7 linked regions of the Homo sapiens genome follow. The protein of the gene in region 7 purifies or fractionates together with the protein of the main gene of each other region. This does not show direct contact. Each region holds a gene or a part of one and is shown on either strand. Other genes may lie near its edges.

Evidence for each region.
Region 1: the proteins of WNK3 (region 7) and GAK purify together in Homo sapiens (affinity purification with mass spectrometry; one large-scale study listed by BioGRID and IntAct). This does not show direct contact.
Region 2: the proteins of WNK3 (region 7) and CLTCL1 purify together in Homo sapiens (affinity purification with mass spectrometry; one large-scale study listed by BioGRID and IntAct). This does not show direct contact.
Region 3: the proteins of WNK3 (region 7) and AP2A2 purify together in Homo sapiens (affinity purification with mass spectrometry; one large-scale study listed by BioGRID and IntAct). This does not show direct contact.
Region 4: the proteins of WNK3 (region 7) and CPVL purify together in Homo sapiens (affinity purification with mass spectrometry; one large-scale study listed by BioGRID and IntAct). This does not show direct contact.
Region 5: the proteins of WNK3 (region 7) and STK39 purify together in Homo sapiens (affinity purification with mass spectrometry; one large-scale study listed by BioGRID and IntAct). This does not show direct contact.
Region 6: the proteins of WNK3 (region 7) and CLINT1 purify together in Homo sapiens (affinity purification with mass spectrometry; one large-scale study listed by BioGRID and IntAct). This does not show direct contact.

What each region holds. Positions count from the first base shown.
Region 1 is NC_000004.12:848,777-852,316, forward strand, and holds the end of GAK (cyclin-G-associated kinase), read right to left. Parts: intron 3,199-3,540; coding exon 2,974-3,198; coding exon of another isoform or gene 2,771-2,973; exon of another isoform or gene 2,533-2,770; intron 2,309-2,532; coding exon 2,160-2,308; intron 1,293-2,159; coding exon 1,116-1,292; intron 999-1,115; coding exon 897-998; 3' UTR 501-896; downstream 1-500. UniProt on the Homo sapiens protein: Associates with cyclin G and CDK5. Seems to act as an auxilin homolog that is involved in the uncoating of clathrin-coated vesicles by Hsc70 in non-neuronal cells. Expression oscillates slightly during the cell cycle, peaking at G1.
Region 2 is NC_000022.11:19,232,720-19,236,219, forward strand, and holds part of CLTCL1 (clathrin heavy chain 2), read right to left. Parts: intron 3,151-3,500; coding exon 2,977-3,150; intron 1,988-2,976; coding exon 1,790-1,987; intron 904-1,789; coding exon 703-903; intron 600-702; coding exon 447-599; intron 1-446. UniProt on the Homo sapiens protein: Clathrin is the major protein of the polyhedral coat of coated pits and vesicles. Two different adapter protein complexes link the clathrin lattice either to the plasma membrane or to the trans-Golgi network.
Region 3 is NC_000011.10:1,005,870-1,009,304, reverse strand, and holds part of AP2A2 (AP-2 complex subunit alpha-2), read right to left. Parts: intron 2,778-3,435; coding exon 2,688-2,777; intron 1,294-2,687; coding exon 1,170-1,293; intron 206-1,169; coding exon 89-205; intron 1-88. UniProt on the Homo sapiens protein: Component of the adaptor protein complex 2 (AP-2). Adaptor protein complexes function in protein transport via transport vesicles in different membrane traffic pathways.
Region 4 is NC_000007.14:29,136,538-29,140,037, forward strand, and holds part of CPVL (probable serine carboxypeptidase CPVL isoform b precursor), read right to left. Parts: intron 1-3,500. UniProt on the Homo sapiens protein: May be involved in the digestion of phagocytosed particles in the lysosome, participation in an inflammatory protease cascade, and trimming of peptides for antigen presentation.
Region 5 is NC_000002.12:168,164,096-168,167,595, forward strand, and holds part of STK39 (STE20/SPS1-related proline-alanine-rich protein kinase), read right to left. Parts: intron 3,313-3,500; coding exon 3,204-3,312; intron 1-3,203. UniProt on the Homo sapiens protein: Effector serine/threonine-protein kinase component of the WNK-SPAK/OSR1 kinase cascade, which is involved in various processes, such as ion transport, response to hypertonic stress and blood pressure.
Region 6 is NC_000005.10:157,810,646-157,814,145, forward strand, and holds part of CLINT1 (clathrin interactor 1), read right to left. Parts: intron 2,583-3,500; coding exon 2,418-2,582; intron 1-2,417. UniProt on the Homo sapiens protein: Binds to membranes enriched in phosphatidylinositol 4,5-bisphosphate (PtdIns(4,5)P2). May have a role in transport via clathrin-coated vesicles from the trans-Golgi network to endosomes. Stimulates clathrin assembly.
Region 7 is NC_000023.11:54,194,047-54,197,546, forward strand, and holds part of WNK3 (serine/threonine-protein kinase WNK3), read right to left. Parts: 3' UTR 1-3,500.

The sequences.
Region 1 (3,540 bases), on a different chromosome or scaffold from region 7:
GTCATTATTCTCTGAAAACAGGAAGAGCCTGGCGGTGAGTTCAGGGCTATGATTCAGGGCCTCCTCGAGTCTGCTGTGGGGTGGGGGCTCACCATGGTCACCTTCTCCTTCCAGGGGCCCCTGGTCCTCCACCAGCCCGACAGCCCGGAGGCCACCTTGGCCCTGCGGGGATGGCACAGGGGCAGTGTGGAGCCCACCCTTGCTCCTAGGTCCAGGGCCCAGGGGCAGGGGCCAAGTGGAGAGGAGAGAGGAGTCCCGGGGCCGAGGGGAGGAAGGGGGTCTGGGGACTGCAGGGGCCCCCGCCCTTGGCCTTGCCCTGGCTGGGCTCTATGGCCCCCTGAAGAGCTGCCCAGAGCCGCTGCAGCCCCGGGACCCGCTTCTCCTCTCCACTCGGCCCCTGCAACAATCCAACCACGGCAAGGTTGCTGAGGAAGCACAGCCTTGTGCCCCAGCTGGTGAACGGCACCTGGGCGAGTGGATCCACACTGGAGACACAGCAGTCATCGGAAAATAGTTTAATTCTGTACAGACAACCACGGGACTGATTACAAAGTGCGGTGCAAACACCAGGGCCCATGAGCGCCAGCAGCGTGGCCCACCACGTGCCGGGGCTCCAGAGGCCACGCCCGAAACACCAAATAAATCACAGACGTGACAATTGCGGGAGGAGCATGAATCAGCTGTTCCTTCGGGAGGAGAAAAAGGAAACAACAATCAGAGGCTTTGGAATGCTTTCTCTTCATGTGCCTGGAACGCTGGGCGGGCGGTGACCCGGGGCTCGGAGCCCCACCCTGGCCACACCTGCTGTCGCCCACGGGGTCCTCACGGTGGGGACCCAGGTCCCACGACGGCTCCCAACCTGTGGAGCTGTGTGCGCAGCCACCACCACTGCGGCCTCAGAAGAGGGGCCGGGAGCCCTGGTTCTCAAACTCCGACCAGGCGTCATTCAGCTCCATGAAGATCATCTTGGCGTGCTGCTCGTACGGCTGCCCCGCAGCCTATGGGTGACAGGCGGTGTAAGCGCCTCTTATAAGCATGCGGGGGCGGGCGGGGCAGGACCCCCCCCCCGCCCCGCCCCTGAAGGCCTCAAGCGGCCGCCTGGCAGCTCTGCTCACCTTGTCGGGGTGCACAGCCAGCACCGCGCGGCGATAGTGCTTCTTCACTTGCTCCGGAGCCACCAGGTCGGCCATGCCCACGGGCGTCCAGCGGCTCTCCCCGTCCCACAGCACTGTGTGCAGCGTGGACAGCAGGGCCCGGATGTTCCGCTCCTTGCCCTCAATCCAGTCCAGGAGCTGCGGGAGACACGGAGCTTGCCGAGCCCTGGGCACCTGCCTGCCCTCCTCCTCTGCACCGCGGAAACTGAGGCACGACGCTGAGGAAGTGCCTGGTCACGTGGGGTGGGCTCAGCCCGGCTCACAGACACTGTCCCACTGCACGCCCTGCCCTCAACTATATAGAGCCCACTCCGGACGACACAGGGCCAGGTGGTCTTCATGTTTCAGGGCCTGGGGCCAGAGGGACCCTCGTCTCAGCCAGATGTTCACCGAGGACACAAACCCTGGTTCTGGTGGTGCAACCCCTTGGCCCATCCCAGGCCCCAGACTCCGAGGGAGAAGGGGATGGTCCCTGGTGCCTGTGAAAGGACCCCAAGGTCACAGGCGCATGTGGCCTGCAGAGCTGGGCATCGGCCAAGCCACAGAGCAGGGCGTGTCTCAGGGCCGGCACAGTGACAGCCTGACCGCTGCATCCTCACCCCCCAGTGAGCGTCCTGGGTTGGGAGGCTCAGTACCCAGAGCAGCCCCCAAGAGACGCCTGCCCTCAACAGTCTCTGCAAACACCCCGGGGCACTCACTCCTGTAACGCCCGCCCACCCCACCCCCACCAGCGCTGAGCCATCTGGGCACGTGGGGAGCAGCACAGCCTGGGGCCTGACTCTGCCCTGCCCCCCTGGCCTCAGGCCACCCTGTCCTTGAGGGCTGCCAGGCCCATCGGCAGTGACAGGTCCCTGTCTGGAGACGCCGGCTCCATGTGGTACAGCAGATGCTCCAGGGGTGAAAGGTTGCTGTCTGGAGACGCCGGCTCCATAAGGCACAGCAGATGCTCCAGGGGCCATGGGTTGAGGCCTCTGGGCTCCCAGGAAGAGCTGCCCACCCACCCACCTTCAGCTTGAGTGGGTCCGTGTCTTTAGCCAGGTCCTGCTTCCTCATCTCTGCAATGGTCTTTGGCCCTTTCTTGTCAGACCTGGAGGAGAAGCCTTGATTGGACAACAGATCTTCAAAGTCGTTCTCAGAGACTTTTGGCTTTTGAGCTAGAAAAGAACAGAAACTTTTTTTTGTTTGAGACAGGGTCTCCACTCTGTCACCCAGGCCAGAGTGCAATGGCGTGATCTCAGCTCTCTGCAGCCTTTGCCTCCCGGCCTCAAGCGATCCTCTTGCCTCAGCCTCCCAAGTAGCTGGGACCACAGGCATGCGCCACCATGCCTGGCTAATTTTTACATTTTTTGTAGAGAGGAGGTATCACTGTTGCCCAAGCTGGTCTTGAACTCCTGGGCTCCAGCGATCTGTCCGCCTCAGCCTCCCAAAGTGCTGGGATTATAGGCGTGAGCCACAAAGCCCAGTTAAGAACAGAAACTTTCTGCAGAGACACACAGGCCCAATTCCACCTGCTGCCCCCGGGAACAGGGCTACCATCCTGATGCCTCCAGAGTAAAGAAGAGGGAAGACAAGACAGGGTTGCAAAGGCCATTTGTTAAAAACAGGTCAAGAAGGTGTCACTGGAACAAGAGGGACCCAGAGGCCTGACCCAGAGAGAGACCAGTGAACACACATCGGAAACCGCGTCGTTCTCTGAGTGGCTTGGCCGTGCCTGTCCCAGGACTGGGCTCTGAGATGAAGAAAACAACATAGGTTCTACCTTTAGCCAATTCAGGGAGGTCTCTGCAAACTCCACAGCAACAGAGAGTGGGGGACTCACCAAAGCTGGGTGCGCGGACCCCCCGCTCCTCCCGCGCCCCGATCACACTGAAGTTCGAGGCATAGTTAGGCCTTGGCTGTGTGCAGGCTTTGGGGGGCGGCTTGGCCTGAGGGGGCCATGAGGCGCCCTGGGCTGGCGGCCGACTTGTCTGCCAGGAGCTGCTGCCTTTGGGCGTGGTGGCCGTTTTGGGAATGAAGCCCCCAGGAGGGAATCCAGCTGGTGAGCCTGTGGAGATGGAGATCGGAAACTCGGCATCTGGTTGTCCATGAGGGGCAACTACTGTTTCTATAACGCAGAGCACCACGTATATTGGAAAACATGCGCTTGCAAAATAGAACACCGATCACTCGAGGCCGTCCAGAGGTGCCGGCTCCACCCACACGTGTGAAGGTCTCCAGGGGCTGGAGCACAGGCCAGGTGCTGGGGCGACGGGAACACTCTGGATGGAGGGCAGACACCAGGACAGGGCAGCTGTGGAGGCAGCACCCCACCCCCAGGAGCCAAGGCAGACCCAGGGCTTGTCCACGGGGGTTGGGGCAGTGTCCCCACGTCACCCCCAGGAGCCAA
Region 2 (3,500 bases), on a different chromosome or scaffold from region 7:
GTGTAGGTACCACCTTCTGCCAAACACAATATCCAATTAAATGAATTGATTTAATGTACATGGAAGGCACAATTAACTATACAAAGAGCCCAGACCACAAAGAAGTTTCCTGATCTGTGTGCAAACACAGCCTGCCAGTAAGCACACAGGGATAAGATCTGGGAGTCTGCCAAAATATCAAATTAACATACAGAAGGAAGAGAGGGAGAGAAAAAACAAGATAAAGCTCCCAAATAAAACGAAGATGGAAGGACTGGAAAACTAAGGATAATAAAAAGCTGAAGAGAATAAAATATGATCATTATGAATAAAGATCCTAACAGCAACATTGCCAACTCTCACACCAGAGGACTTACAAAGAAGGGTATTTTATAAACTTTAAAATCAGCAACCACTCAACCACACGTGAGTAATCTGTGAGATGCCAGTGGTTCAACACACGTTACCTTTTTGGCATAGAGCACAATTTTCTGGAATTGGCCTGTTTCTGCAAAACACTGGATCACTTTGCTTGGCACATTTGCCCGAAGGTACACACTCAGAGCGAGCATGGGGTCAGTGGTTTTGACCAAGTCTCCGAGCTCCTCTGAGCACTCCAGCTGTGGTATGCCAAGGGACAAGGCAAAGTTAGGAGGCAGGTAGGGAGCCTGGACCAAGTTTTCAAGCTGTGCGGGGGGGCTACGAGCTCACAAGTGTTTCTACCTTATCTTCTTTCAGCCACTTCTCTAGGAGTTGCTTACGCCCCTGCTGAAGAACCAGATGGCAAAGTTCTAAGGATTCAAGTTTATTGAGCTGACCCTGGTCGAGCAGGATTCCGAAGTACTGCAGCAATGGAGAAGCCTGGCCAGACTGAGCGGGTATACTCTGGAATTTCTGGACCGTCTCTCTGGTACGCAGGATTCCCTAATAATAAATGGAAAAATAGGTCATTGTGTTGTAATCACAGGGGATCCCTTCACTCAACTTCCTTGTATGTAAAAACAAAAATCTGCCAGTGGAAATTCCACACTGCTCTGTCATAGACAAAAAGTCCTCTACCAAGGCAACTGCTTCTATCTTCAACAATAACCATAAGTATAGGGGAATCTAGGTCCTCCAGGTGGCTTCACACTTAGGGTCTTACTTCTCCCCCAGCATGCTGCAGTAAGAATTCGGCCTCTCAATCAGTCTTGTAGTAGTGAAGTTCTGCTATCATTATATTCTAATTCAAAATACTCAAATTCACAGATGAAGGCTAGAAATGGTTTGTTCACAACTACCCCTTGAAAGACAAGAAAAATTCTTTCAAGGACAAGCAACTTGAAAGTCTTTATCTACTCAGGAACAGATCCAGTCTCTGAACAATTTATCCAAATGAAATAAACCCAAGAAAAAGCCATATGCCGAAATGCTATATTCTAAAAGAGTGGAGAAAGTCCAGGGTAGGACTATCGCTAGATAAAACAGGGAACAACCACTTGATGTATTGTACAGTTGCATATTTGACAACCAGGTAGCAAGAGTGGAAAATGCTAAGTTACAGAAATGTGAAACTGTATCTAAGCTGTTGGGTGAGAGGTACGTATGCACACAAAGTGGGAGGCGTGAAGAAGTGCCGATGCAGCAAGAGTGTGTTTTTTGTTTACTTCCTTTACTGTTATGCCATTGGTGCAAAAATTTTAAACTAAAAACTCCTAACATAACACTAATAGACTGCAATATCACTAGTGAAATGCTTTTATGACTTATTTTCCTCTCAAGGTTGGTTCTTAACACTCAGAACACTTGAACAGTATTCAAGGTTTATCACCTTTGGTGCAGACGCTGCAACTTTGGCGGCTTCAGCATAGCTGCCCTGTGCAAAGAGGGTATTGAATTTTCTCACAAACAACTTCTCTGCCCCAGCCAGGTTACTACGAACGGCCAAACGCAGACCAAGGTCTGGATTCTGAAGCACGTTGGTTGCATAATTCACAATGTTATCTTCCTCAACACAAACTGACAGTACCTGTAAGGACACAACAAGTGAGAGCAGCCCGGCCTAGAAGAGTGCTCCACCATCCCTCTGCCATGTTCCCTTCCGATGCTGGAGTGGTAGCCACATTCTCAGGCGAGTGTTGAGCACACCTGTGATGGTGGCCCTCACAGTGAAAGGAGGCAAAGCAGCCGAAAGCCAAATGGTAACAAAACAGAACAGCATAGGAGTCTATGTAGTTATTAAAGTCACACAGATAAGTGTGATGCGTTCTGCGCTACAGCAAAATGACCTATGTGGATGGAACTGACAATTTTTCTTCTTAAACTTTTTATTTTTAAAGTACAGAGTTTCTTTCTTTTTTAAAAAATATTTTTGTAGAGACAGGGTCTTACTATGTCGCTCAGGCTGGATTCAAACTCCTAGCCTCAAGCAATCCTCCTGTCTCAGCCTTCCAAAGTGCTGGGATTATAGGAATCAGCCACTGTTCCCGACTTTTTTTTTTTTTTCCCCTGAGACAGGCTCTCACTGTTTCACCCAGGCTGGAGTGCAATGGTGTGATCACAGCTCACTGCAGCCTCAAACTCCTGGGCTCAAGCCATCCTCCTGCCTCAACCTCCCATGCAGTTGGGATTACAGGCATAAACTATTGTGCCCAGCCAAGAGTTTCTTCTTTTAACTATCTTTTTCAACTATGGTTGAGAAAAGTTACTTAAATACCATAGTATCTGCTTTTTCAACCCTCCCCAGTTAGGGTGTGCATGGTATAAAGATGATGTGCATCAGAACTGCTGTTCTATACGCAGGAAGGAGCTGCTCTCCTCCTGGAATCAATCCTGTGTTAGGAATGGTGCTGTCTGAAGAGAGGAAGTGTCAATATGAAGGAGGAGACATGGGTTTAAGTTTAATAACAGGAACTATTAATAGCTACACCCAGCTGCTTTCCTAGAGAAGGGGGAAAGTTTAAACGCCAGTCCCTAATGAATGGAAAAGGTAGAAAATGAAATGTCAGAGTTACACACCTGTCCCTTTTTGTTGACACCAATAATTCCAGAGGTTGGTTTGTGTGGAGCAGTGACAAATATTGTGTCAGCACTAATACGGTTCATGCAGATGCACACGCCAGACTCTAGGTCGTACAGATGAAGATAGCCATACTTTGTGATCAAGTAAATAACACCATGTTTAGCTCCAATCTATAAGAAGACAGAGAGCAAGAGGTTGGAAAGTAAGGAGGAGAAGCCATGCGGGTAAAAAGAGCTCACAAATGATAAAGAGGATTCTTGTTTGTTTGTTTGTTTTTTGAGATAGGGTCGTGCTCTGTCACCCAGGCTGGAGTGTAGTGGTGCCACCATAGCTCACTGCAACTTCCGACCTCTGGGCTCAGGTGATCCTCCCATCTCAGCCTCCAATGTAGCTGGGACTACAAGTGTGAGCTGCCACACCTAGCTATACAAGGATTCTTCAGTTTCTCAGGCCGAGAGATTACTGGTGGGAGCAATGCTTTCCTGAGACATGGATTCTAAGTTGTACTTGATTGAGAATT
Region 3 (3,435 bases), on a different chromosome or scaffold from region 7:
TGTTCTCAGCCAGGCCAGAGACCAAAACCCACCTTTTCAAATGAGCCCCGTCCCCACCCCTGACCCCTACAGGAAACAGGTTTCTCACTTGCTCAACTGCTTCCAACGTTGAAAGAAATCCTGAGAAGCCATTTCTGTCGGCTGGAAGAATTTGTTGAGAGTGATGGGCAGCTGCACAGACACGTTCTGGAAGGTGCCCCCATACCTGCCAGCAGCAGCAGCAGCAGAAAGAGACAGTCAGCTACTCCTCTGAGAGCCCCAGGGACCGGGAAAGAGCCTGGAGTGAGAAGCGTCCCGATCTACTGCCACCCACCAGAGCGGGTCGGGGGGCCGAGCCTTCAGTCCCCACGGATCGTGTGTGGCTCAGTGTCCAGTGTCACCCACAGACAGGAGGACAGGCCAGGGCCGCATACTCAGGCAGGACGTCCCTGTGCCTCACTTCTCCCCATTCATCTGTTTCCCAGAACTCCAAGTCTGTGCAAATAGTGTGATGTTTTTTCTTTAAAAAGGCAAAGGCATTTGCACAAAGAATGAAACAAAAACTTGCATGTCTATGTCCCCGAATTCTACAGTATACAATCTTAAGTTCTCTGTCTTTTTAATGTTAGAAAGTGTGCTTTTCTCAACATTCCTAACCTTGCAGACACCCAGCAGGGGACGGGCTGACTGTATCCACGCTATTTGTAGTCACTGAAAAGTGAGAGTAATGAACAGTCGCAACAGGAAAATCCTATGCTTTTAAAAAATAAGCAAAGTGGTACGATCTGAGCTCAACTGAGCAAAAAACGCGCCCCCCAGGCCAGGGGGCCGAAGGAAACCAGCTGCCTGCACCCCACAGCTGTCGTCTGGTACCAAGCCGGGCAGGTGGCGCGGGGGCCCTGGCTGTCTGCCACCCCATGAGGTGGGCCCCATGGTGCCCAGAAAGATCCTAGCAAGGCCCCATGTGGGAGCTGCCACCTGCCGTCCCGGAGCCCAGGGCTCCGCCTCCCCTTGTTTCCTGCGCTCTGCAGAGCCGGGGGCAGCAATAGCTCAGGCCGCATCCATGCACCGTGAGCACCCGCACGCCCCGGGTCCCCTCAGGAAGGACACGGAGGCACAGTCATGGAGCCCAGGCACACAGCTCAGGCGCCCACACACCCCTTGGCCCGGGGCGCACAGGCGGCTCTTACCTGAACTGAATGTTGAGGACTGGCGCCTCCGTGAAGTCGGACACGCACTCTATGTTGACCACCTGCTGCACCTGCGCGCCCCCCTCCACGGTCGGGTCCACGGGCTTGGTCTGCAGGTTCAGGTGTGCGTGCGTTAAGGAATCCAGCTGAGCAAGTCCCAGTGGCAGAAGCGGAAACGGGCCGGGCTAGAGCCCCAGCAGGACCCGTGGAGGCGAGCACACTCACCACACTCTAGGACCACCAGCTACGGGTCGAGGGCAGCCACACCACCCGGCCCTGCCCTTCCACCCAGACAATCCTCAAAACACTGTCTGCTTCTCACGCTTCCAGAATGGCTCCTCCATTTTAAAAAGTCACTTAGATTATATACTACTTGTCTGTTTTCACTCTGAGCCTCGGCTCTGGGTCTTACACACACAATTTTTGTCACCGTTAGCAGAAACTGGTGCTTAGTAGGGCAGGAAAACTTTAAGAATCCCAGGAATAGCAGGCTCCTGAAACAGCGAGACACAGAAAAGAGCCTGCCCTGCTGGGACCAGGGTTGTTTTCATGCTGGAAAACAAGGGTTTGCCTACAGCCTCTCCTGAAGAAACAGTGACAGCAGCAAAGCTGGGTCCAGGAGGCAGCGGGGTGCAGGCCTCTCCTTCCCTCTGGGTCGTGTGCCGCCGGCCACTCAGCTGCTGGGCTCGCTGCCGCCTCGAGCCAAGTGGACCCCGAGGGAGAGACCCCTAAAGAAGGGCGCAGTAGGAGTCAGAGCTTCCACTCCAGATTCCAAACAAAGTCTTTAATACAGGTGCTCCTGCATGTGTATTTTTAATGACTGTTTTGAAACAGCTTGAACAGTCTGCATTAAAACATGTTCATGTTAAAATGAACAGACCAGCCAGTGGCAAGGAGGATGTTGCTTCACTCAGGTCGCTGACCATAAATCCCCAGGTGTCACCATCTCTGGTCAAGCTGGGGTCTTCACGCTAACTCTATTTGGCGGGCCTATCCTTAGAGGTAGAGACGTTAGCGTCTCCCTGTTTTAGCTGGGGAAGTTCTAGGAACGCTTCTGGCATTACGAAGGGAAAATCTTCAGTCTAAAAGCTCTGCCAGAAGCACACACAAGCTCGGCTGGGGTGCGCACCGCGCTCCAGTCCCCACTGGCGCCTCCCACACTCTGCAAGCAGCAGCTCTGTGAGGCTTCGGAGAGGAGGGGTTTAAAGATCACGTCACAGGAGAGTAAGAGCAGGTGAAAAGGAAAGGGACTCACACTGGCCAGATGGAAGGGGAGGAGGCATGTACACGGTATTTTTAGGTGCATGATCAAAAGCTGGCTCTCCAATATGGAAGACTGCCTGTTTTCCTTCTCCTGCCCAGCACCATAGGCAGATTACGACTGCCTGATTTTCATATAGCATCTGGAATTATCTCGCTATTTTAACAAAATAAGAAAACCAAAAAACTTCCTCAAAAGCCTCCTCTAAGCCCCACATTATGCTGTCTGCGGGCATGGGGCAATGAAGCCAAGGATATTAGGCTGAAGGTCGTCTGAACAGATTAGTGTTGGGGTAAAGTTTAGGAACTGCGTGGAGGTCTTATTACCATAAAAGATAAACATCCGACCTAGAAGGAACAAAAACAATTTTTTCACACACACCATTTCACACTTACCCTGAATATTTACCCTGAAAAACAAGAGCCCCCCACAATCTTCAGCTGAATTTAAGTTCACTGTTGTGATGTATGACTGTTGTTAAAATTAAGAACAAATTTTTTCCAGTTTTAGAACGAGCACACCAGTGCTGGTAACACGGGCCGGGTATCTCCTCCAGTCAGAGGTAACTTCCGCCCTCCAGCACCCTCCTCCCTCGGCCCCTCCTGCGCACCCACACGGGATGGGTGAGATCACACGCATATGCACGGGGAAGGACCCACAGAACGCCCCGTCTGCAGGCTGGGCTACAGCTGGAGGGGCCTGCCAAGCATCTTTTCCAGGGACGCCACAATCACACAGGCCTCTGCCGGCCCCGCCCCATGACTGCAACATGCAAACACACGCACCGGCCCCGGCTGCCTCCTGTCAGGGGACCCGGCTGGGCACGCGTCCAGCACAGCATCGGTGTTGCACACTAGCCCTCACTGCAGCGGCTCAGCCACGGCACAGGTGCACATTTAGGATGTGTCGCTGTTTTTATTTATATCACAGTAAAAAATCTTTGTGAACATCTGTATACCCCTTGAATTCAGAAAGGAAATCTCAAATATTTTGAAAACAGTAAAC
Region 4 (3,500 bases), on a different chromosome or scaffold from region 7:
AGGTGTAACCCTAAAACCAATAAATCAAGAAACAGATTAGGCAGATTACTTGGAAATTTGGAATTAAAGGCTAGAACAGACAGGTAAAAGTATGAGAGGAGGTCTCAGAGATAAGAGAAGGATGGGGAGGTGGGGAGAAGAAGACTAAAATTTTTTATCATGAGAATTATAACATTACTTTTATTATATTGACAAAAATCAAAAGTAGTTAAGAAGAACTCAAAAACTAAACTTATTATCTCCTTCCCTAAACTTGTCCTTACTTCCCTATTTTTCATCTTGGTTGGAAATACTCCCATCAACTCAAGTACTAAAGCCAGAAATCCAGGATGTATTCTTTATTTATCCATTTTTCTCTGGCCCTGCATTCCCACAGCCAATCAATCACCAACTGAATCTCCTAGATGTTCTTCAAATTCACCTTCACCTCTCTAAATCTACTCTCATGGCCTAATCCAGTTCTTTATTGTGACTTGCCTGGACTACTGCAAACCTCCAAACTAGTTTCCAACCTTGACTTTAACTCCTAATTAAATGAATCCCTCTATACTTCCCTCATGTGCTGCTGTCTCTCCTATTGAGGTGGCATCACTGTCTGGGGTAAATACCTGGGGTTCGCCATCTCATGCCAAGATTAAGGACATGGACACGCACAAGGAGTGAGTTTAGGAGCAGAGGTTTAGTAGGCAAAAGAAAGAGAAAGGAGAACACTTCTCTCTCTTGCAAGAGAGGGGCATCTGAATGGGAAATCTGGCCCTCCGTGGAGTGCACCAGATTTTATAGACAGGCTTGAGGAGGTGGTGTCTGATTTATATAGACAAAGATTGGCCCACAGATTGGCTGGACCAGGTGTGACATTTACATAGCATGCAGGGAAGCTGGCCACCTCACCCTAACCTTATTAAGCAAATGGGCTTTCCACTTGGCCAGCATTACTGTCTGTTCCCTACTGTACACATGGTTGGAAAGGAAAAGGGAAGACGGAGCTGCCATTTTGAACATGCCTAGCCCAGGTAGCCTTTTCCTATTGGCACAACTGCCGGCATTCACCTGTGCAAGCTTCCAGCTTACTTGTCTATGTGTGTAGCTCAATTTTATAGGCAGGCTGCTCTTTGTTAGAAAAGAAAATGATTTGGGGTCTGCTTTTCATTAAAAGGAAAACCTTACCGAGGACTCCTGTACTCTCACTATCTGCCCAAATAATTTCTTCTTAACGCCTATATCACTATTTTGGGAGGTCATAGAATTTATAGCATTTAAAAATTTGTTATGCAGCAATAGATAACCAATACAGAGGCAGGAGAAAAGCATAAGTAGGAAGTGGAGAAATAGGATGGAATCTAGAGAAGTCAGTAGAGAGCTGATCAGGGAGAGTTTTCTAGATATGCTAAGAATCTTTATCCTCTAGTGACTAGGAACTACTGAAGGGCTTGATAATTTGAAAAGAGTACTATGAACATCAATGTAAGGATGGACTTAAGCCAGAAAGACAGCAGGCAGGAAGGCCAGTTAATATGTTTCACAATAATCTAGAATAAAGATGACAGGAGTTTGAACTAGGGCTGGAAACTAGTAATAATAGCGTGGAGAGGGCAGACTTAAAAATAATTAGAAGGTTGACTGGGAGCAGTGGCTCACGCCTGTAATCCCAGCACTTTGGGAGGCCAAGGTGGGTAAGATCACCAGAGGTCAGGAGTTCCAGACCAGCCTGGCCAACATGACAAAACCCTGTCTCTACAAAAAAATACAAAAATTAGCCAGGCTTGGTGGTATGTGCCTGTAATCCCAGCTATTCAGGAGGCTGAGGTGGGAGGATCACTTGAACACCGGAGGCAGAGGTTGCAGTGATCCAAGACCACGCTGCTGCACTCCAGCCTGGGCAAAAGAGCGAGACTACGTCTCCAAATAATAATAATAAGAAGAAGAAGAAGAAAGTAAAACTGGAAGAAACTTGTGATTATATATTAGAGTTGAAATAGAACAAAGAATCTAGGATGATCCCAGATGTGACTTAGATGGCTGGGTGGGTGGACAGTGGTGCCATTAACCGAGAAAGAGAGAGACCCAGATCCCTGGGAGTGAAAATCAGCTCTGCTGCTAATCAGTCTAAGATGCTCCCAACAGAACATTAACAATGTTTCTATATACCCAAGGCCACTCTGCAGCTGCAGTATGATGGACAGTCCTTTTTTCTGAGCAACTGCTGTATTCTTACCAATGATAGCGCTTTGTCCCTCCCATCTCCTGAACAGAGACTGCTGAGAGTCTAAGTTCCTGAGCTGCCACGGGCACTTGGCAGCAGCTAATCCAGCGGGTACCTCTTCCCTGATCCCTCCTTCGACTCATTCAGCACAAGGCCAAATATTTCAGAGGCCTCTTCCCACTTCTCCCAACCTTTGGGTATGTGTCCTCCTTTGCTGGACATAATGCTAACACACCTAACTTTGTGTCATTACACATGTATTTCTCATATTCTCTGCTGAGTGGGTTTCAACTTCCATCCCACTTGAAAGGTGTGCTGAGAAAAGGTAGAAGGAGACTAAAAAATAGGGAGAAAAGAGACAATAAAGCCAGACCGTAGAGGATGGCTGCGGGCTCCCTATAGTACATTACATTCTAAGACGAGCAGGAAAGGCTCTGCCACAATTCCTGAATGTACAAGGTCAAAAGTTCCAGCCTTCACTTTGCCAACAGGTATATCCTTGGGCAAGCCAATTCACTTCTCCCCTTGGACTTCAGTTCCTTCATTTGTAAATTCTGGAGATTAGATGGACTATATAATTCCCAAAATCCCTTTCAGCTTGGAATGTCTAAGATTCTAAAAATGCAGCCAAGGAGATCAGGCTAAAACTGCTTCAGGCTTTGAGTCACAGGGATGATTCACGCAGGCTACCTTAATGAAAGAACTTCCACATCTGCTCTAGGTGCCCTGAACCTACACATTTCTGTCAGTGTTCGTAAGACAACCTAAGAAACCTAAGAAAGGCTATTCTTGGGGGGGCAGGGGGGCTACAACACTGATTAAATTACATGTTTTTTAAGCACAGATTTTTTAAAAATCCTATTAAAATTCTAAATCAGTGGCTTCCAGCAATTTTTCTCTGAAACAGACGTCTCGGATTTTGCAGACACCAATGTTCAGGCACACGTGTACACAAGAATGGTGGAAAGAGTCATGGTTTTACATGGAGTGTGCAGTCTGCCAGCTCAGAAATCTCCTGTGTCCCAACGGCACAGGCGGTTCATTCTCCTGCCAGCCAAGTTAATTCTACCAACATGCCAATAGTTAGAAGGGGAGAAAACAAAACAAAACAAATTATTTCCACTTGACTTGCTGATTGCTAATAATATTCTTCATCAAGTAACCCAGGCAGGAACACTTTTCATCTTCAGAATTAGCTATGGCTGCCATTTCCCCTTTTGTCAAATACAGGGAGATATTTCCCACGGTCTGCACATGACTCAGAATGGCTTCATCTTTATTTCACGTTCTACATTTC
Region 5 (3,500 bases), on a different chromosome or scaffold from region 7:
GGATTCTGGGTCAGGGACCAGAAGGCTGTTCATGGCCGTTCCATGGCTGGTTCCTTTTCTGGTTACAGTATTTCTCACAAAAATTCCTAAGAGCAACCCTCCAAAGAGGGTGCAAAAAGTCTGAACTGACAAAGAAAGGAGTATGAGGCCAGGAGAAAAGGCAGAAGTGAACTGCTGAGAGAAAAAAAACACACTCTTTGAGGACCTAAATCACAGGTGGGAGGGGGAAAGAAGTATGTTGTTTCTAGACCTCTGCTTATAACCGGAAGATTCCTTCCTGTGACACTACCTGATCTTTATTTTCTTTCCTTCTTTTTCTTTTTTTATTTGAGACAGAGTCTGCCTCTGTCATATAAGCTGGAGTGCAGTGGAGCAATCACAGCTCACTGCAGCCTCAACTTCCCAGGCTCAAGCGATCCTCCCACCTCAGCCTCCCAAGTAGCTGGGACTACAAGTACGTGCCACCACGCCTGGCTAATTTTTGTATTTTTTGTAGAGATGGGGTCTTACCACGTTGCCCATGCCGGTCTTGAACTTCTGGGCTTAAGTGATCTGCCCACCTTTGGCCTCCCAAAGTGCTGGGCTTATAGGCATAAGCCACTGAGCCTGGCTGATCTTTATTTCATTTACCTGATATATTTGAGGCACTAACACTTACAATAAACAAACAGATACCTAGTACTTTGTTACCATATACAGATTAGTATCCTTGGCACTGTGAATTCATGTTTCAACACATATTAATTAGTATTCCAAACCCCTGGGTCAGTTTAAAAGCCAAAATTACCTGGGGGTTTGACATTTCTGAAGAGTTAACAAACGGCTTACCTCAGGACCTGAATTTGGCTCTAGGCTCTTTATAATTAACTAAGAGGATTGAGCTTCCCCATCAGATACAGCTGCCTGCCCCTCATTAAGAGATTCAATGTAATGAAATAGAAGAAAACAAATGCATATTTTTCCCCAGAGGAAAAAAAAACCTCTGTTTATTTGTTGACTCTTAGATTTTTGTGTCATTTAAAAAATGATAATTCCAAAAACATTTTCTTTTTATTGTATAAGGATATACCATACCAGGCATGCATGCATTTCTGTCCTGCTAAAAGAAAAATGAACAAGAGTCCACGTCTGCCCACGTCCTTACCTGTGGAAACCTGTTTAAAATCTGTTCTTACCTAAAGCCCAGAGAGGCTAAATTGGACTCAAAAAGACAAAGAAATTTTCTGTCAGATCCTCCTCAGAAAACAGAAGATTCTCAGCTTCATAAAGCAAAAGGTAAAATCTTCAGCTTGAGCAGAGCATTTGGGACTATTCAGGGTCTCAAGTCATCAGAATTTCTCATTTCCTCAGAGTTGGTGGAACCCCACAAAAAGAGAATGCCTTAAGATCATCTTGTTGGCAAAGCGCAAGTTCCTCTGCTGAATAAAGGGGCAGTCCCAGCACTCAATACTGCAGTCCAGCTCTGGCAGGCTTCCTTTTTCTTTTCCTTTTTCTTTTTTTCTTTTTAATTAAAAACTGAAGTAGGCACTCAAGGAAACAATGACTAATAAGACTGAGGAAGACTGAAAACAGAACAGAACTAAGCTCCCCAGGGCTCCCCACCGAGACCTACACAAGCAGACCCAAGCCAATTACAATGCCTTCGTCATCTCATTTTTGGGCTTCTGCTTGATCCAAGAGAGTTTCCTTTTTAAAAAAGGAAAACATTAAAACACCTCCCTCGACATCTGCAGATTAAAATAGGCTCTATCATATAAATTCTGCTATGCTAGTTTTGGGTTGTCCAGGCACAGCAAAATGTTCTCCTCTGATCCTAAACCATACTTCATGTCTCAGAAAGATACCCAGAGAATCAAGCCCTCGAAAGAGAACACACCAGAGATGTGGGTATGCTGGGTGTTCCCAAGGAAATCACTTGGGCTTTCTAAGCTTCAGTGCCCATGTCTGCAAAACGAAGGTGTAAATACTTGCAGCACAGCATACAAATTTTTAAGTCAACAGATGTTAAAGTCACAAATTCCAGCACCAACATTTACTATGTGTGTGACCTTGGGCAAGTTGCTAAACTCCCTTGAAATTTGGTGTAATTTCTGAAAAACAGGGATGGTGACACAGGCCATTCAGGGACACTGTGAAGATTAAATGGGATAAGGTCAGTAAATTGCCTTGGACAGGATCTAGCCACAGAGTAAGTGTTCAAAAAAGGCAACGGTTATCATTATCATTCCCTCTCTGATAGTGATGTTAGAAGATTAAAAGAAATAAAATACAGGATGTGAAAGCACCTTGTAAATTAAATTGTCAATGGCTTGCATCACTGCAGGGATCTGAAGCTAGAGAGAGGAAGTGACTTTCCCTTCCCAAATGCAACAATAGGATGACAATAGTGCCATTTCTGATCAACACTGCAAGTGAATATGTAGCACACATTTCTCCCCATGTCAACTGAAACCACATTTAGTGAGCACCTACTGGGCGCCAAGTTCAATGAATTCAAAGTGCATTAGACAATCTTCACAAAGTCCACAACCTAAATATGCACTGTCCAATACTGGAGCCATACAAGGTGATTTAAATGTAAGTTAATTAAAATTGAATACTCAGTCCCTCAGTCACACTAGCCACATGTCAAGTGCTTAAGAGTCACATGGGATTAGTAAAAAGTAGATAGCAGCACCTCAGAACATTTCCATCATCACAGAACATTCTGATAAATGGCACTGAGATAATTCAGCAAACTGCAATGTGTTAAGGACCTGAACAATGTTAAAAAGAAAGGACTCAAGGAGAAAGGACTGGCTAACTTTTTTGAAGAGTAAGCGGTGACTGTGGAGAGGATGTGACCTTTTAGGCCTGAGCACATGGAAAACAAAGGAGAGATGCAAGGCTGAGAAAGAGGACAGGTCAGGGGCAAAGGCATGAGAGCACATAATACATTCCGGGGGCTGCCTCTCAGCCTAGAAGGTCGGGCATTTCATACCTGGAGAAGAGGACATACACATTCTCGGAAGTTAAGCAAAATTATGAAAAGCTTTGAAGGTCAATGTGAAGCAATCTGGACGTTATCCTCTAGGCAATGAGAAACCAAACAAACTTTCAAACACAGGAGAGAAAGGATTCAATCTAAAGTCTTCTCCAATATGCTGGTTCCAACAAAAGGAGAGAAAACAAGCAAATAAATAACAACAACAAAATCCACTTACCTCCACTTAGTAATTTCATGACCAGCCAAAGTTCATCTTTGACCACAAAAGAGGTGTAATAGGTCACTACGTTGGGATGGCTGCACTGACTCATGGCTTGAATTTCTTTCTATAAAAAGAGCAAAACATGACATAGTACCATGGGGTGAAAATTGGCAAGCAAAACACAAGTGAATCACAGTTGAGTACCTGGGTAACTTTCCTACTCGAAAGCCTACCTGAGGGGCTGCCTAAGCCATTACTTCAAAGAAGGTATATAAGGACCAATTCTCTCACCCACATTATCAACTCAGATTA
Region 6 (3,500 bases), on a different chromosome or scaffold from region 7:
CACAAAATGAAACCCTTCCATTTCCATGTCCAAATCCAACTTAAGAAGCAACAGTAGAAGGTACAGAGAGCACGTGAGGTATTTTTAAAAAAGAAAACATTAAAAATTAAGGCAGGTTGGAAGAAAATGAAAAGGACAATGAGAAACAACAAAATAACTAAAAAGTGGCTAATGGAGCTTTTGTTTTGAACTTTTGTTTACAGGATCTAAAAGGATACATAGCCTTTGGAGATTGAACAAAACGATTTTGCTGAATTGCCTCCTAAAATTGCAAGGCTAAAATTTTCTGTTACATGTTTAAGGATTTTAACATATTTACTGAATCTGGAAATGACCATCAACTTAAAGAAAACATGACAAAATGAAGTTTTCTAGACAAAATTTAAACCAGGATGGTTTTTTTAAAAAAAGTGATTTTCCAACAATGTGTATGTACATTTCAACAACAGTGTGATGAACCAGACTTCGGAAAGAAACAAATTTACACGAAAAATGGAAGTGGATGAAAACCAAACTGATTAGCATGGCATGGTGAACATCATACTGAATTACTGCTAAAGATACTGGATATTGGCAAGACATTATCTAATGTCAGAATGAAAAAACACAAAACTGGCCGGGTGCGGTGGCTCATGCCTGTAATCCCAGCACTTTGGGAGGCCAAGGTGGCTGGATCACTTGAGGTCAGGAGTTCAAGACCAGCCTGGCCAACATGGCGAAACCCTAAAAATACAAAAATTGGCGAGGCATGGTGGCTCACGCCTGTGGTCCCAGCTTCTTGGGAGGATGAGGCAGGAGAATCACTTGAACCCGGGAGGCGGAGGTTGCAGTGAGCTGAGATGGTAACACTGCACTCCAGCCTGGATGACAGAGCAAGAATCCTCAAAAAAAAAAAAAAAGAAAAGAAAAAGAAAAAACACAAAACTGCTAAGAGTGATTAGTTAAGTCTGAATAACATAAACCATGAACAATAACTTAGCAAAAGGATGTGATGCAAACACACAGGATATCCAACTCTATCTTTAATACAGATGCTGCAGTTAGTGCATTGTGACTGAGTTTGAAAACGTATTCAATTTTCTAAGTTTAGCTGATATAATTATATATCATGCTGGCAAAAAGAAAGATACAAGCAAGAATAGTGTGGAAATAAGTTTCAAATAGCAATTTCTATTAAAAACACATTAAGTTGCTACAACTACTTTGAAAAACCTGAAGAATAAAGTTACTACTTGGGTAAATAATCCAAAAACTTTGGACTTCCCCAAATAGAAACTTCAAAACATTATTTATATGCTTTAGGAGAAATATTTTTGCCCAATTCAAAAACTAACTTGTGGCCGACTCTGGTTGCACTGCCTATGAGTTAGCCCTATTTAAAAAAAAGAAAAAGAAAAAACTAACTTGTATTTGATGCTTCAATATAAAAAAGGGAATTTTTCTGCTGTTAGAAACATCCTTAAACAGCTAACTAAACGCAGTGTTTTTTCTTTGAGAGTGGGAAAGCAGAGGAATAAATGAGTAAGGATATTTTATATGTTAAGATTTTTACATGGTTCCATTGAAGGAGATATGAGAGCTCAATATAATCCAAATATAAACATATATGGGTGGGGGGAGCTGGAGAGCCTCAGTGAACAGCTGCTAAGATACACAGCACTGGCCAGTCTGCACATACACAAAATGAGCAAGAGATTGTCAGAGCTCACAGAAGACAGAACAAGTCCAAAGGGACATGCCGTGAAAGACAGTTCCTATTTTGTGTATCTGCTTCAAGCACCTATGCCCTATTTTAGAGAAACTATATTATTATATTAAAAATAAACATGAAAGATGAATGTTCTAGCTGCTCTTAAGTGTACTGGGAAGAATAAACAAAACAATAGGCCTAGATGAAAAACTGCGAGTATCGTCAGTCATCTTTTATATGTCAAAGTATGCAATGCTTAAATAAAGAAAGAGAGACTGAGGCTGGAATGACTGTCAGGAAGCTTATCTGGTTTGGGCCAAAAATACAGCTAAATTGGTTTCAAATTAGAAAGATGGATCTCCTGATCAAACTTTTTATTTTTATACTCTAAACTCTGAGTTATAGAAACTTTCTTCCCCCTTCTTTTTAAAATGGCAATCCTAAGAGGGAAGGGCATATATCTGTTTTAATCTCTGTATGACACCTCAAAATATGCAGTCATTTAATTAGCCATTAATGGTTAAAATCCTATTGCCGAACCCACAAGTTAAAAATAGGAAGATTCATGTGATAGTAGAAGTCAAGATTAGTACTGCGTGTATTTTAGTATTCTATGTATTCCTAGAAAAGAAAATTAGCATTTTGGTCTTTGGTATTTCACTGATTCTTAAAATATACTCAAGAAGCTAAGCTGATGCTTAGGTGTCAGCTTGTCTTTGATACTCACTGTATCTGAATCCTCCAACACTGTCTGAGGAAACCCCAACATACTTGTCTTTGTTCTTCTTTGCTTTCTTTCGCTCTTCACGAAGCCTGTCGTCATCCTGGGCAAATTCAACCAATTCCTTCACCTTCTGTCGAATATTTATACCTTGATCCTTACCATGCTCATCTATGAGGATGGTAAGAGATAAGCAAAACCTAAGAATTCACTTAATATGTATCAAGCTCTTTAAGATTAAAAAAAAGACACAAAAACTTCAACATAAGAAACTTCAATATTTAAAAAACAATAGAAAGGGGCAAGTTGTGCTATTTAACTTTGTCATTTCCTCTTCAGCAAATTCTAAGTTCTAAAATGGAATTTTGGCTTATAAGAGCATGTAAAGATGAACTAAAAAGGACCACAGATAATGGTACTATGCAAGGTCAATTAAAGATTGACCTAAAAAGGATTACTGATGATGACCACACAAAATAGACATATCCATAAGTGCTATTGTGTTTTTCTATCATATTTTAAGAAAACAAATCAAAAGAAGAACCACTTTAGCATGTTAATAACTGAAAAGCACACAAATGTCTTGGTTTCCCCAGTACACGTCTGGAACACTAATTATGAGGTTTTAGCATAGCTCAAAAACTGAATTTTTAAAGTGCTTACAAGTGGGGTACGCTACAAAATGAAATGTGCTTCATTTTCTAGCCTCTTTCACATTCAAAACACACTGTGGCCTTGCTGCCTTTGCACAGTAAATATTATTTGGTGGGAGGGAAAAAAACCCCAGCTTCAAACAGATGTGTGTGTTTTGGAGCTCTAACCTTTTCTTCCCATATGATTAAAGCTATTCCTTTATGGACACCACAGGGGACCAGTCTCCAGTGCATATTTTAATATAAACCCGAACACTCATGTTGTGTTGGTTCTGTTGTTATTAGCCAGTCTTTTCTGCAAGTTCTTGTCTTCACTAATTAATACTCTAGGGCCCCACGTCTTGGATTCTGCACTCGTCACACAACCAGCAACAGTCACATTCTAATTAGAGCAGAGAAGCTTCTAAGCTGGTTCAGGTGACTGACAACTCCAACT
Region 7 (3,500 bases):
TGCATAATGACTGAAATACAGTATTTACCAATATTAAATATGCTGTAGTGTTACACAGTAAACATGTGAAACAAGGAACATCTGGTTACAAACATTTGCTGAGTTTTCAAGGAAAAAAAAGGAATGCATCATTTTCATCACTCAGAAAAGACAGCAAAGAAGAAAGTCAATGCTTCCATAAACTTTAGAGATTGGATAAAGTTATATAAAACCCTTACTATCAACTACATTTCAACTAAATGCATTTGGCCGTTTTAAGGTAACAAAATACCACTGCAAATACCTAGCACTGTGCTAATATATGTTGAATGATAGGCCATTGCTGAAGGATTTGTCAAATATTTCGCTGTGGTAGTTAAAGCAATTTCAACCCATTGCCCTTTAGGCACACAGACGAGAAATGCATCTCTAATAAAAAATGCAAAGTTATAGGCACTGGATTGTCTAATTCAGGTACTTTCTTACCATTTGTTTATTTTATAACTAACTCCTACACCTAAATCCTATATTGCCACCAATTTCAATTATTCTTCTGCTCTCCACCCCCAAATCCCCAAAGCATATTTCACAGAAGCACATGGCTCTCCACTTAAACACAGATGAGAGTGATGATCCCTCTCATCTCAAACTGTTGGCTAGCACTGGGAAAAAAGAGGCAGACCAGATTTATAATCTGAAAGAATACTGAGAATCAAGGCAAAAAAGCAAGTTTCACAGGTAGTGTTTACTTGTGCACCCAAAACAGCACTGAAAACGAGGTAGTTAAACAAAATTAATTGGACTAGAATTAAATCTGGGGTTCTAAAATGATATATCCCATCAAACTGTACATAACACTCCACACTCAATCCAAAAATCACAGCAGAAAAGTGCCTTTTAAACTTTCACAGATAATTTTGCTGTCAAACCATTGGAATTCATGCTTGATATAAAACTGGCAAGGAAGGGATGAAAAACAGAATGAATATTTGTTATATTACAGCAAATTACCTTAAATAGAGATTCAAGACTGCTACAAATATACATAGGGTTATTTTCATTAGATTTACACCAATACTGGTTTCATATTCTTATGATGTTACACCCAACTTCACAGACATAGCAGCAGGTACTTCATGATGAAATGCTCACATTACCACATATGGAGATACAGTACTATTCATCAGACTTGCACTTTGAGAAGTAAACATGGTGGCTGGACATACAGACTATCCTCTGAATAAACTTTACAAGCAGGATGGTTAAGTACAACCATTTTCTCCTCTACAAGAAGGAAAATGAAAAGGACAGGTTTGTGTGTTTTTTGGAAAGGAAGGCCCTTTTTATATAGTAGGCTCTTTGTTAAGAAGGGAATTTCTGAGCTTTACCTCAAGTTAATTATTTCTGGGGAGGAAAAGTACCTCAGACAAGGATGAAAATAGCACTATTATATGATTTAGCAAAATTATGAAATAATGCAAAAGCCCTGGATAGAAAACTAGCCAGTATTTACAGTCAAAGTGACTATAATCTGAACCAAACATGTAAGTCATGGGAAAAAATAATTTTAATAAAACCCCACAGTGATGAGAATAACATTGTTTTCTCCATTTCTGCACAAGCTCACTTTTTTCTGTATTTTTAAATGTACACATGTTATATATACATAATGTATACATAACATATATGATAACCCGGTTACTGCAGTCAGCATGGAGACAGCAGTACACTATTCACCATCTTCAAACTTTAGAAGACTACTTTTCTTTCCAGCAAAAACCTGAAAAGATTGTAAATATTACAAGGCACTGCAAGAGTCTGCAGGCAAACAAGAATGATGAATTATATGTGGAATAGAGGTGGTGGCCAAAGGCAGAACATAGGATGTAGAGCAGTCATTAATACATGTAATTGTACATGTCAGCCATGGAGCTTTTTTCATCCTGGGGTACACTGTTTAAAATGATTGTGACTAGAGAAGAAGGGGTCCTAAAATCTGCAGTATTTTCACTTTATAGGTTGTATGGCTCGGTGTAATTACACAAAGCCAACTTTTTATAATGAAACACAGGCAGTTTTAAAGAATTAGGGATTTTAGGAGCATTGTTTTTATACATATGGAAAACAGTGCAATGCAAGCATTTGCATTACACTAATGTCCTAAAATCACTTTAAACTGCAAACCAATACTGTACAAGAAATTTGAAGAATCTGTACTTAACATTTGGAAAGACTCATACAAAACAGATCATGTTCTATGAAAAGAAACAGTGGATCTTATCAACAGCAATTCTCAAAATGCTGCCCTAGATGCCTCAAATTATAGCGACAGAATCTTCTTGATAATGGATGTGATCCTCAGGTAAGCAACATAAAACACATTTTTTTTTTTTTTTGGAAAAGAGGTACTTAATGTCACAAAGTAGACTGTGCAAAAAAAAAAAAAAGTACACCCATTAAGTTTTCGTCATTACCTGGCAAGCCCATGGGGTATAATTTTTAGAAGAATACGGAGGAAAATCTGTTAACAGTAATGTTGGGTAGCAATTTGGAATGTTTACTAGTAGACAGAACTCCTAATTAGGTAAATGTGTATTAGAAATGACCTTAAAGTCTTCAGAGTGGAAGGTAAGTAATTTGAACATGAATACTTAGTTGGTAAATAACATTTTAAGAATTCTATTTAGGTTTCACAGACTGAGCATTAGGTAACCCTGTGACTAGCCTTTAACATTATTATAGTTAACCTTCTTAAAAACCAAAGGTGTACATTTTGACATTGCCTCCCCTCCTCCTAAAACTGGATAAAACCCAGTAAAGTGCAACTTGACAGTGATCTCTCTCAGATTCTAAAGAGGCTGCCAAACTCATTTAAGATCTAAAATCATCTAAGATACTATAGATACTAAAAAGAAATTCTAACAACTAAAAATTGTAATTAAAAAGAGCTAAGGACAACTTAAATAGTATCCTTCTAGGGTCTACTATCTCACTGCAGGACAGTGTATACCCCACATCTCTGAGAACCCTGTAAAGCCAGTGTTTCATATGTAAGTCTCGAAACCTACTGTGTCAAGTAAATTTCACTTCAGAAGAATGGATTGAGGTGTAGCTTTAATCCCCCTTGTTAGGAATACAAGGATTCCCCCCAAACGAGATTCATATCAGCTGCAATATATGCCTTGCAAAAGAATGCAAGACAAACCAATGCCTCTCAGATGCTCAAAACCAATGTAGTATGCATGTGAGAAACAAGGAGACAGCTGCTTTGAATTATTACTGAAATCGTAAAACAGCAGCAGTATCTGCAGAATCAAGGAACTGTTACAATTCTGTTTTTTCCCTTTCCCTCTGTCTCACCCAAAACAAGGCTTCATCCTACTGCTGTGATGACGGGAAATCACATTTAAAAAGGGCTCATGTTCTGTATTGGTTGACAAAATTATTGTAATTTTTTGGGGGGGCTAAGGAGGGCGGATCACAAGGTTAGGAGTTTGAGACCAGTCTGGCCAACATAGTGA